Linked DNA regions of Homo sapiens: region 2 is linked to region 1. Evidence: fine-mapped expression QTL. Tissue or cell type: whole blood. Region 1 holds a variant in brackets; the other region holds the start of a gene. All regions are shown on one strand. Distances are between the middles of the regions.

The links. PIP is the estimated chance that this variant, and not a neighbour inherited with it, causes the effect.
Region 2: TSPAN17 starts here. The variant in region 1 is fine-mapped to the expression of TSPAN17 in whole blood (INTERVAL, PIP above 0.99).

The regions. Positions count from the first base shown.
Region 1 is chr5:176,584,771-176,590,234 of GRCh38, reverse strand. It overlaps CDHR2 (cadherin related family member 2), which reads right to left. Exons shown (of 32, transcript NM_017675.6): 19 at 5,220-5,464; 20 at 4,210-4,281; 21 at 3,393-3,442; 22 at 1,053-1,204; 23 at 797-905; 24 at 619-707; 25 at 89-157. Among named protein-coding and RNA genes, the nearest start is that of GPRIN1, 23 kb to the left of the region's middle. The variant A/T (reference allele first, on the strand shown) is at 2,773.
Region 2 is chr5:176,644,443-176,649,442 of GRCh38, reverse strand. It overlaps TSPAN17 (tetraspanin 17), which reads right to left and starts at 1,959. Exons shown (of 9, transcript NM_130465.5): 1 at 1,741-1,959. The coding sequence starts at 1,827. EIF4E1B (eukaryotic translation initiation factor 4E family member 1B) reads right to left here. Exons shown (of 9, transcript NM_001099408.2): 7 at 4,200-4,313; 8 at 3,927-4,066; 9 at 2,799-3,577. The coding sequence ends at 3,463. RefSeq lists enhancers at 1-699, 3,061-3,355, 3,626-4,136, 4,718-5,000 and a silencer at 1,728-2,387.

The DNA.
Region 1 (5,464 bases):
GAAGAGTCAGGAGCCTGGATCACCCAGCAGGCCCCTCCTGCTACCGCTTCTCCCCCTCAACCCCACCCCCAGGCCTCTGGGCACTCACCGAGCTGCAGAATCTATGTCCTGAATGTCCACAATGTATACTGTAGTCCTGGTTGCCTGGGTAAGAGCCCTGCAAAGAAGGCAGATGTCACAGAGGCCTGGGGTCTTAGCCTGGGCCTGTGGCCAGGGCTGTGCCAGTGGGATTAAGAATTGTATGAGTGAGAAAGGGCACCTCCTCTGGACAGCTCTGTTGGCTGAGTAGGTAGCATCTCTGTGAAAATTACAAAAGGAAATCCCTTCCTCTGGGGCTGGGTGAATAGCTTAGCAAGCAGAGTGCCCTTGTGCAACACACAGCCTTCACAACTGTACACGGCAGCCTTGTTCCAAGGCTTCCCTCTGCCCTTGGCTGGGTATGGGCTTCTGGGGACATGCAAGAACGTCGTGCAGGTGAAAGTACAGGGTTGAAGACAGGGACAAGGTCAAATGTGGGTCAGGAACAGGATTGAGAGACATCCCATCCAGGTTTTGTCGGGGACCAGGCTCCTACACCCTGTTCTTCCTACCCCTCCCTCCGGGGCTCCCCAGACCTACGCATTAATCGCCTGTCTGTTGGCGCCCACCTCCTCCTTCGGTGTGGAGAACTGCAGCCGCGAGCGGTAACTCTGGTCCACGGTGAAGAGCTGGGAAGGGGGTGTGCAGGAGATGAGGCACCAGGGACCCTGGGGGCTGGCAGAGGGCGTTGGGGGCTGGAGGTGGGACCAGCACTCACATTCAGGGTGGTGGTGGCTTCCAGGAAAGGACCCAAGGAAGGTCTGTCCCTGGCCTGGACTGTCACTTGGTAGGTGCCTTGGAGAGTGGAGTCGAGGCTGGTCACCGGCCTGCGGAAGGCGGGAGGCGCAGGTCAGTCTTGGAACCCAAGCTGAATCCTCAGGACCCTTGTAACCTCCAGGATGGGGGACTTGCTGCCTGAAAGCTCCTATCGGGCCCCTCCCCGCAACCTCCCTCCCGGGGCCGCCCGCAGTTACTGAATGCTCCCAGCGAACACGTCGGCCTCGGAGGAGGTGAAGATCGAGAAGACACCCTGGAAAGGGATGGTGGCCCCGTCCTTAGAGATGAAGTCTACTCGGAGGATGGAGAACAGGATGACGCCATTGTTCCCTGAATCATCGTCTCTGGCCTGGGAGCAAGAGTGGACAATATCTGGGGGCCCAGCCAGGCCAGGCATCCCTCCACCCCAGCAGGGATCAGAGGCAAGGGTGGCCTGGGAGGCTGGCCCTCACCGTCTCTATCCGCCATCCCCACGCTGCCCCGAATAAGCAAATGGTTTCAAAAAACAGTGTGTCTGCTCTGCAAATCCAGATTTGGACAAGAACCTGCCCCTGTTCCCCAACTCCAAACAGATCACTGCCCTAAGTCCCTCACATGTGGAAATCCTGCCCTGCTCCCCCTACACCCCTCCACTGCCATACTCTCTCTCTCTCTCACACACACACACTCACACACACAGTCTCTCTCACATACACACCCTCTCACACACACACACTCTCACACACTGTCCCACTCACACTCAGTCTCACCCTAACACACACTTACACACATATGCACACACACTCATACACACCCTCACACACACTCTCACACACTGTCCCACTCACACATACACTCACTCACCCTAACACACTCACACACATGCACACACTCATACACACCCTCACACACTTATCCTCTCACACTCACATACACTCACACACCCTCTCACACTCACACACTTATCCTGACACACACACTCACACCCTCACTCTCTCATGCACTCACCACACACTCAATTCACACACACTCACACAAATACACTCAATTCACACACATTCACACACTTGCACAGTCACACACATACACACCCACAATCACCTACATACCCACACACTGTCACACACATTCACATACACTCACTCACCCTTATACACACCCTCAGGCACACACATTCACACTTAGACACACACACACTGGCGTGCACACACACAGCGATGCTCAGATTTCCTAAGCACCTCCCCTGGGATCCCTCATTTCCGTGCGGGGAGTACCAATTCCCCTAGTAGACCATGAAGCTGGTTGGGGAGGGGACACAAGCATTTTTATTCATTCTAGTGCCTTTTAGAGAAAAATTTAACCAGCACACAGAGCTTCGAGTTCACCAACGTTACTGTTAAGGATAGGCCAACACCAGTGCTTAGGTCTTAAAAAGGAATCTATTTAAAGAAAATTGCCGTGGCTAAACTCTTGACATTAGAACCAAATTGGCAGAAGATTGGGAAGCTGTCTTAAGACTTGAAAGTCACACAGTCACTGTCTCTAGCATGAACGTCAACCTAGAGAGGGAGAATTACTATCCCCATTTTACAAGAGGAAGCTGAGGCTCCGAGAGACCCTGTCCTTACACTCGGCTCTAAGTGGGGAAGGCCAGCCCTGTCCATCTCTTGTACCCATGTCCTTTCCAAAGCATAGGGAATGGCACCCACATGCCACCTTCTGGGAACTGCTAGCTTCTTGTTGAACAGGGAAACGGAGTCCCAGAGAGGGTAGGCAGCTCTCCAGGTCAGTAAGAAGCCCAGCCAGGCCCAGCCCTCGGTGGTGTGGGAAGCCTCATCCCCACACGGCATGGCCACCACCCCTAATAAACTTGCCACATCCAACACCATAAACAGCTGAAAGCCTTTTTATGACTTGGCTCCAATAATTTATTTATTT[A/T]TTTATTTTTTTTTGAGGCAGAGTTTCACTCTTGTCGCCCAGGCTGGAGTGCAATGGCGTGATCTCGACTCACCGCAACCTCCGCCTCTCGAGTTCAAGTGACTCTCCTGCCTCAGCCTCCCAAGTAGCTGGGATTACAGGCATGCACCACCACACCCAGCTAATTTTGTATTTTTTAGTAGAGATGGGGTTTCTGCATGTTGGTCAGGCTGGTCGCAGACTCCCGACCTCAGGTGATCCACCTGCCTTGGCCTCCCAAAGTGCTGGGATTACAGGCTTGAGCCACCGTGCCCAGCTGGCTCTGAGAATTATTTAATGACAAGGCACTGGCTTAATTTACAATTAGCTATGAGTTCTCTGTATTACTCAAGAATTCTGGTATAGTAAGAAATATCTGGACTGCAAGTGGTATTTACGGTCATGACATTTTTATGAATGCTACATTTATCACAGTGAAGTTTGATTACATTGATTAGACAGGTGTTGGTTTCCCTTCTGGGGTTTTCTTTTTCATGTGTTGGAGCCCATATATTTTCTTTCTACCATGGAAGGCCTGAAGGCCTCAGCCCTGTGTCCCCTGGGGCTCATATGACCAACAAAGGCTGGAGCCAAGAACTTACCCGGACAGAAGCCACCTCCCGGTTGGGCAGCACGAGTTCAGGGATGATCACTGCAGGTGTGAACGGGAACGGGGTCAGCGGGGTCGGGACACTGCCCACCTGGACCAAGGCTGGTCACGAGCCCAGCTCAGGGCTCATCCCCCTAAACCTGCCCTCAACCTCTCTACCAAAAGAGACCCCTATTACAGCCACCACTGGGCCAGTAGTTAGCAAGTCATCCACCTCCCATTGTCACAGGTGAGGTCACAGGCCCACAGGACCATGCGGAAATGGAGGCCCAGAGAGGGAAGTCCTGGCCCAGGGCCAGACATTAGGTCGGACAGAGCTGGAATGAAAACTCCAGTGTTGGCTGGGCATGGTGGCTCATGCCTATAATCCCAGCACTTTGGGAGGCCAAGGCGAGCAGATCACTTGAGGCCAGGAGTTCAAGACCAGTCTGGCCAACACAATGAAACCCTGTCTCTACTAAAAATACAAAAATTAGCCAGGTGTGGTGGCGCATGCCTGTAGCCCCAGCTACTCTGGAGGCTAAGGCATGAGAATTGCTTGAACCTGGGAGGCGGAGGTTGCAGTGAGCTGAGATCGTACCATTGCGCTCCAGCCTGGGCGACAGAGCAAGACTCCGTCTCAAGAAAAAAAGGAAAGAAAAAAGAAAACTCCAATGTCCTCTCCTATTGCAGCCCTAGGAAGATGCAGGATTAGAGGCCTTCCCCCCTTTCTAAAGGCTCCCCCTGGGGTCCAAGGAGGGTCTGTCGGGGTTGCTCAAAGGCGGCCTTATGGAGCAGGGGTATGGTGTGTGAATGGGGTTGCTGCTTACCAAAAGTCTTATTCTCAGGCAGAAAATAGGGTGCATTGTCATTCACGTCCTCAATGGTAATGAGGAGGCTTCCTAGGAGACAAGGTCAGCTGGCTTTGGCTCTGGGCAAAAGCTTGACCCAAAGAGCCTGGGCCTCAACCCTGTGCCCCACAGCCTCAACCCCATGCCCCGCAGCCTCAACCCCGTGCCCCGCAGCCTCAACCCTGTGCCCCGCAGCCTCAACCCCGTGCCCCGCAGCCTCAACCCCATGCCCCGCAGCTTCTCTCCCATGTGTTCCCCCATGCTCAGTCCCCTTCCCTGCTCCTGACCCAGAATGCCTGATCGGTCTTCTCTGGCCTGTGTGGGTGGGAGTATCATCCCAGACCTCAGAGCAGATAAGCAGCTTGTCAAAGTCACACAGCAATAGTGGTGGGCCAGGATTGGGCCCAGCCTAGGTAGATCTCACCTATGACATTATACTGACACATTCTAACTATATAAGCTGGTTGTTTAAATACCCACTTTCTGCCTCAGTTTCCTCATCTATAAAATTGGATAGGGAACACCTACCCCATGGGTTGTGTGGAAGTGGAAAAATTCTTACAAGGTGCCTGGTGTAGTTCTTGGCTGTCATAAGGACTCAATATATGCTAGTTGTTAATGTGATTATTATTGCTATTTGGTGTCAGAAGTGGGATACAAGCACACATCTAGCTCTGCAGTGTTATCTTTCTTTCACAGCATCTTGTAAAATAATGGCATTAATTTGATGCTACTGCATGCCAGGCACTGCAATAAATGCCATACATCCATATTCTCATTGAATCTTCACAGCCCACCCCACTGCCCAACTCCACTGGACAGATGGGGAAACTGAAGCTTGGAGAGGGTTTGGGACTTTCCCAGTATTTGCAGCTGGAAAGGGCTGGAGCCAAGATCTGAGCCCAGACCTTGTGAGTTCCAGCCCAGGGCTCCTTCCCGCGGCCCCTAAGCTATGGCCTGCCAAGCCCTGCAAGGACAGGCTGCCTTACCATTGTTGCTGTAGGCCTGGAAGCCGGGGTCCGTGGCTAGGTCACAGGCCCGCACAACCAGCGTGACCAGGTCACAGGCCTCGTAGTCGATGGCTTTGCTCTGGTTGATGTACACAGAGCCGTTGGCCGCCACTGAGAACCAGCCCCAGCATAGGCTGCCCACATCGACCCCGGCCTTGGTGCAGAGAATGTTCACAAGCTGTATCTCCAGCTGGGCACTGGTGTCCACATCCGAGGCAACCACC
Region 2 (5,000 bases), 59 kb before region 1:
AAAAAAAAAAGAAAAAAGAAAAAAGGAAACCACAAGCAGTTTCCAAACAGAACAACACCAGGGTCTGCCTGACATTAAACATGAAAACCTCTGTGCCTGTTCCACAAGCAGCCTCCCTTAGGCCACCTTAACCCAAATCTGAAATCCTCCCTCCAGCCCCCAAGTGACCCAGCCCAGTCAATTCAGCCTCTTGACTTTCCCAGCAACCTCCCTCACCTTTCCCACCTCACCATCCCAGCTTTGCCCCAGCCCTGCCCCCATTCCAAACCTCCAGGCCCTGCCCCTCATCCACCCTCCACACAGCAGCCAGGCAAGCGGTCTCCAGAACAGAAGCCAGATCAGACCCATCACTGGAAGCCCTCGCTTCTCCATGCCACCTTAACATAACACCCCACGCTCCGCCCCAGCAACAAACCCGGGTCTCTCACGCCTGCTCCCCCTCGGTATTTGAGGTTACTTCTGCTCACAGCTCTGCCTCACCTCCACCCTCTGCCCACTAAGCCGTCACCTTGGCTCTGTACTTTCTGGCTGTGTGACCCTAGGTAAGTGACTTAATTTCTCTGTGTCTATTCCTTCAGTTTCCCCATCTGTAAAATGCAGATAATAAGGCAGTTGTGAGAATACAACAAATTGAACTCATTGTATCTGCCTAACAGCCCTCACAGGCAGATTCTTTATCGTCGTCTCCCAGGCAGGCAAGCTGAGGCCCGGAGAGGAGAGATGACTTGCCCAAGGTGTCCCAGCCAGGCCTGCTACAGCCAGGCCTTCTGACTTCTTTGCCAGTGCTCCCACACACTGCCCACACCCTCAAGAGCCTAGCGCTGCAGTGCAAGGACACCCACCACACCAGTGAGCTCGGTGACACGTGGGTGGGGGGCAGTGCCACTGAGTCTTGCTGAACACAAGGGAAAAGGCCTGGCATCTTGACCCAAGGCCTCAGGAGCAGAGACTGCAGAGGGCCACGGCTTTGGAGAGATGGGAAAAATGACCTGGCAGGGCCCAGGGGGACAGATGCCACCCTGGGAGGGGCACTAGTAGCTCCCTTCCCCGGTAGGGGCAGACCCGCCCAGGAGCCTCAGCTTGTCAGCTGTGGAATGTTGAATTCTGTTCCCCAAGGCCAGCTCCCAGGCTCTCAACCGGGGAGATCCTCTCCCAGCCGCCAAGGACTCGCCATTGTCCCTCCCTGCCCCTCCTGGCAGGTCAGCCTCCTTGTGCGGGACTGGGGTGGGCAGAGGACTGTGACCCACCCCACTCTGCAGGAGCCTAAGGTGAGGCACCTGACCCAGGTACTACTGGAAGGGAAAGGAGGCCGGGGAAGGGGCCTGGCGGCTCCCTTCACGCCAGAATCTCCTTACCGGCTAAACCAGGGGTGGGGCTTGGCACGCATCCCACATCCCAGGGTAGGAAGGAGGGCTGGGCGAGAGGGGGCAACCTGCACCTAGCACGCCCCTGGGGTCTTCAAGGAAACACCTTCCCTTTCTCCACCAGGCCTCGGGATTATTTAGGGAGACTCCCTACCCCAACCCCGACCCCACGCTGTCGCTAGGACCCGCCCCCAGCAATCCGGGCCTCTGTAGCTACCTCGGGTGGTCCTGGAAGTGGGCGTGGGTGTGGCAGAAGTGGGGGGATGGTCCCGAGCTCCAAACTCTTGGGGCAGGGAGTGGTCTCCCCCAGCAAAAGACTGAATCTCCCTCTCCCACCACCCCCCAGCACAGGGCAAGGCGCAGACCCCGCGCTCACCCAGAAGACAATGTTGAAGCCAAACAGGAAGTATTTCCCGCAGCAGCCGACCTCAGGTTCCTGGAAATGCTGGTGCTTGCCGGGCATGGTGAGCGGCCACCCGCCGGCCCGGAAACCGGAGCCGGGAGCCAGGCCCAGCGCCCCGCGGGCCGCCCTGGGCTAGAGCCGCCCGGGGCCTAGCCGGGCGGCTGCGGCTTCATGGCCTCGGCCACACAGAGCGCCGGTCGGGCCCCGCCCGCCCCTCAGGGACCGCCCTCAGCATCCAGACCTCCTTGCCCGGAGCCCTGCTGTCCCCGCCTCTGGACCGGGCCCCGCCCCCACAGCCCTCAGTCCCTTTGGAGTCCCGCCTCCTGACCTGGCTCCGCCCCCATAGATCAACTCAGTCCCGCCTGAGCCCCGCCTCTGGACCTGGCTCCGCTTCCCGAGCTCCGCCCCCACAGCCTGATTCGGACCTCCTCGCAGCCCCGCCTTCGGCCAGGCCCCGCCCCCGCGCAGGCCGCCGCCGCGTTTCCCAGCGTCCTGCAGACCCGCCCGGGACGCCGGCTGATGGCGCCGGAGGCCGCCGGGGTGTAGAAGCCTTGCTTCCCCTGCTGGGTACCAGCGCCATCCCAATCCCCAGCCTGCTGTTGGAGCCCATCCCAGGGGAAGGTTAACTGCTGCTCTGGCAGGCGAATGGGGAAGCTGGTCCGGATTGAGTTTTTAACACGTGCAGGACGTTTTGTCATTGTGGAGTCGCATCAGGCTCACCTTCACCCAGCGGAAATCCAGCTCTACTTATCCTGACTCAAACTCAGGCCAAACGAGGGCCTGGGCCTTGGTGCCACGCCGGCTGCGCCCTGCCAGGGGCATATGCCCCCCGGAACCTGGCTCAAGCCCCCTTGGTGGCTGAGTTTCCCCAGCCACACCCCCTGTCCTCCATACTGGCCAGGGTCCCGGTCAGGCTCCTTGGTACCCAGTGATCTCACATGAGCCCCTGTAAGACAGGACAGAGGCAGATCAAAGTTTGGGGGAACCTGAATCTTACTCCAGTTTGAAGCCCTCTTAAAAATAATTCCAACTTTGTTCAGAAGTATTTATTTAAAACAGGAACAGAAAGATGCTTAAGCTTTTATTATCAAGTTTATCCACTTCCACCACTTCTACCAGAACCTTGGTGAGGCCTAGCCCAGCATCCCTCCACCTCCACTTCAGTCTGGCCCTGAGGCAGGCAAGGCCCAGACAGCCCTGGTCACAGCTGGGGAGAAGGGGAGCGGCCTTGCAAGGCTCTCTCAGTCCTCAGCAACCCACGTATCCCTCTGTACAAATGATGGCGTTCACCCTCCAGAATGTCTGTGCCCTTGAGCCCACCACCCATGGAAGAGTCTGTCTCTCAGGCCACCTCACCTCCTTCCTGGGTGGAAACAGTAAACGCTGGACTATGGGTTTCTCCGCCTACCATAGAGCCCTCCTTCCCCGCCATGACTCACCCCACCCTCAGGAGTTTTTTCCACCCTGCTGCTGTCCTGTGGCCCCAGGACAAGCTAGGTCCTCAGACTGCCACCACTACCCCCATCTAGCCCCTAAGGCTCAGGCCCCAACTCATGTTAAAGAGTGTTTGCATTCCTGTTCACTTGAGGACAGGTAAGAACTAGGCTGTCTGATCCCCAGTCCCGCCCCATCCCCCAAAGTAATGAGGCTCAGTGGCGGCTGTCCCATTACATAGGAGGGGTGCCAAGGCCCCCCTCACACCACAAACTTGTTCTTGGCTAGGGAGTTGCTCTTGGTGGCTGTGTCTGCATGGGCCTGGTACCCAATGATGGTCTTTGGGGAGAGGCCCAGGCGCTCTTTGTATACACGCCTGCAGGTGCGGGGGACACAGAGGAAAAGAGACACAGGTAGTCATCAGAGGGTCCTAGAGATAACTTAGGCCACCAGACTCCTACCCTCATTCTGGCCACAGCCACACCTGTTGTGTCTTACCCATGTGGAAACCCAAAATATGACCCCCTTAATGCAAAAGGAGAGCTGCACTGCCGTAAGAGAAAGTTAGAAATCTGAACGCCAGACCTTCCATACAGGTGGGCAAGGCAGAAGGGAGGGAGGCTATGGAGACTTTCAGAGGTCTCCCATGCAGGCCAAGCCCCCTCCACCCACCTTCCCTCTAGCAGAGACCCAAGTCCCCACCCTGTGCCAGAGACCCTCCTCACCCAACGTGCAGCACGCCCGCCTGGTTTTCCGCCTCCCTCGTCCACACAGCGATCTTGTCCCCCTTGGTGCGGATGTTGACGACGGCCCCACATACCTCTCTGCTGTGTTCCTCAAAGCTCTCCCCGATCAGACACAGCAGCTGGACCCGAAGTAGGGGGTTGTGAGATCACCGGCTGGGACATAGGGACTGGCCTGCCATCCTTGAGACCACTGCCACCATGAGACCCACACAGCCCGTCTCTTCCCCTGAGGACCCTCCTCCTCCAACTCACCGTCTCCAGCCACAGCCGGTCCAGCTCAATGTGGCGCTGCTGCTTGGCCAGGCTGACCAGCCAGCGGCCACCCCGTTTATTCCTGCTGTCCTCCCACATGGGCTGGATGCCATCCTGCAAGGCAGATGGCAAGTCAACTGCCTCCCTGTGTTCAAAGGGAAATGGGGACCCACCCACCATCCCGGCCTTATCCGCTCTCTGCTGAGGCCCTAAGTAGGCCAGATTCTCTTATCCTCCCTTCCCTCAGTGCAAGCAGGTTCCACCCCCAGCCACTCAGCTCCCCCCGACAGACAGCACTGGTCACCTTGTATAGCCTTGTATATGTGCATGTCTCTTTTACTGAGTTCCTTAAGACAAGCATTCAAATCGGGGTGGATTAAGGAAGCCTCAGGGGCAGACCCCAATGCAGGCAAGGGGGACATCCCAGGCTTGGCTGCATGGTTCCCAGGCAGGGCAGAAGTCACTGGGGAGATCTCTAAACACAATGTCAGCCCTCCAGGGATGGGTGTGGCATCAATGAGTGTCCTCAAGCAATTCTGATGCCCTTCCCTAGTTAAGGAGCCAGGTCAGAAATCTCTCCCTCTCCCTCTTCCCGCCTCTTAAGGTCCTCCAAGGTGCGGCTTGGGCCTGACCTACTCTGTCCGGGCTCCTGTAGAGCATTTCCTCCAGTCAGAAACCACAACTCTGCTGAGAGGTGGCCCGTAGCTCCCCACCCCCACCCCTCTGAGGGATTAACGCAGTGGAGTCCGGGAGGGATCAACCCCTTGTCCCTTTGCGGGAGGGAAAGAGGAGAGCAGAGCT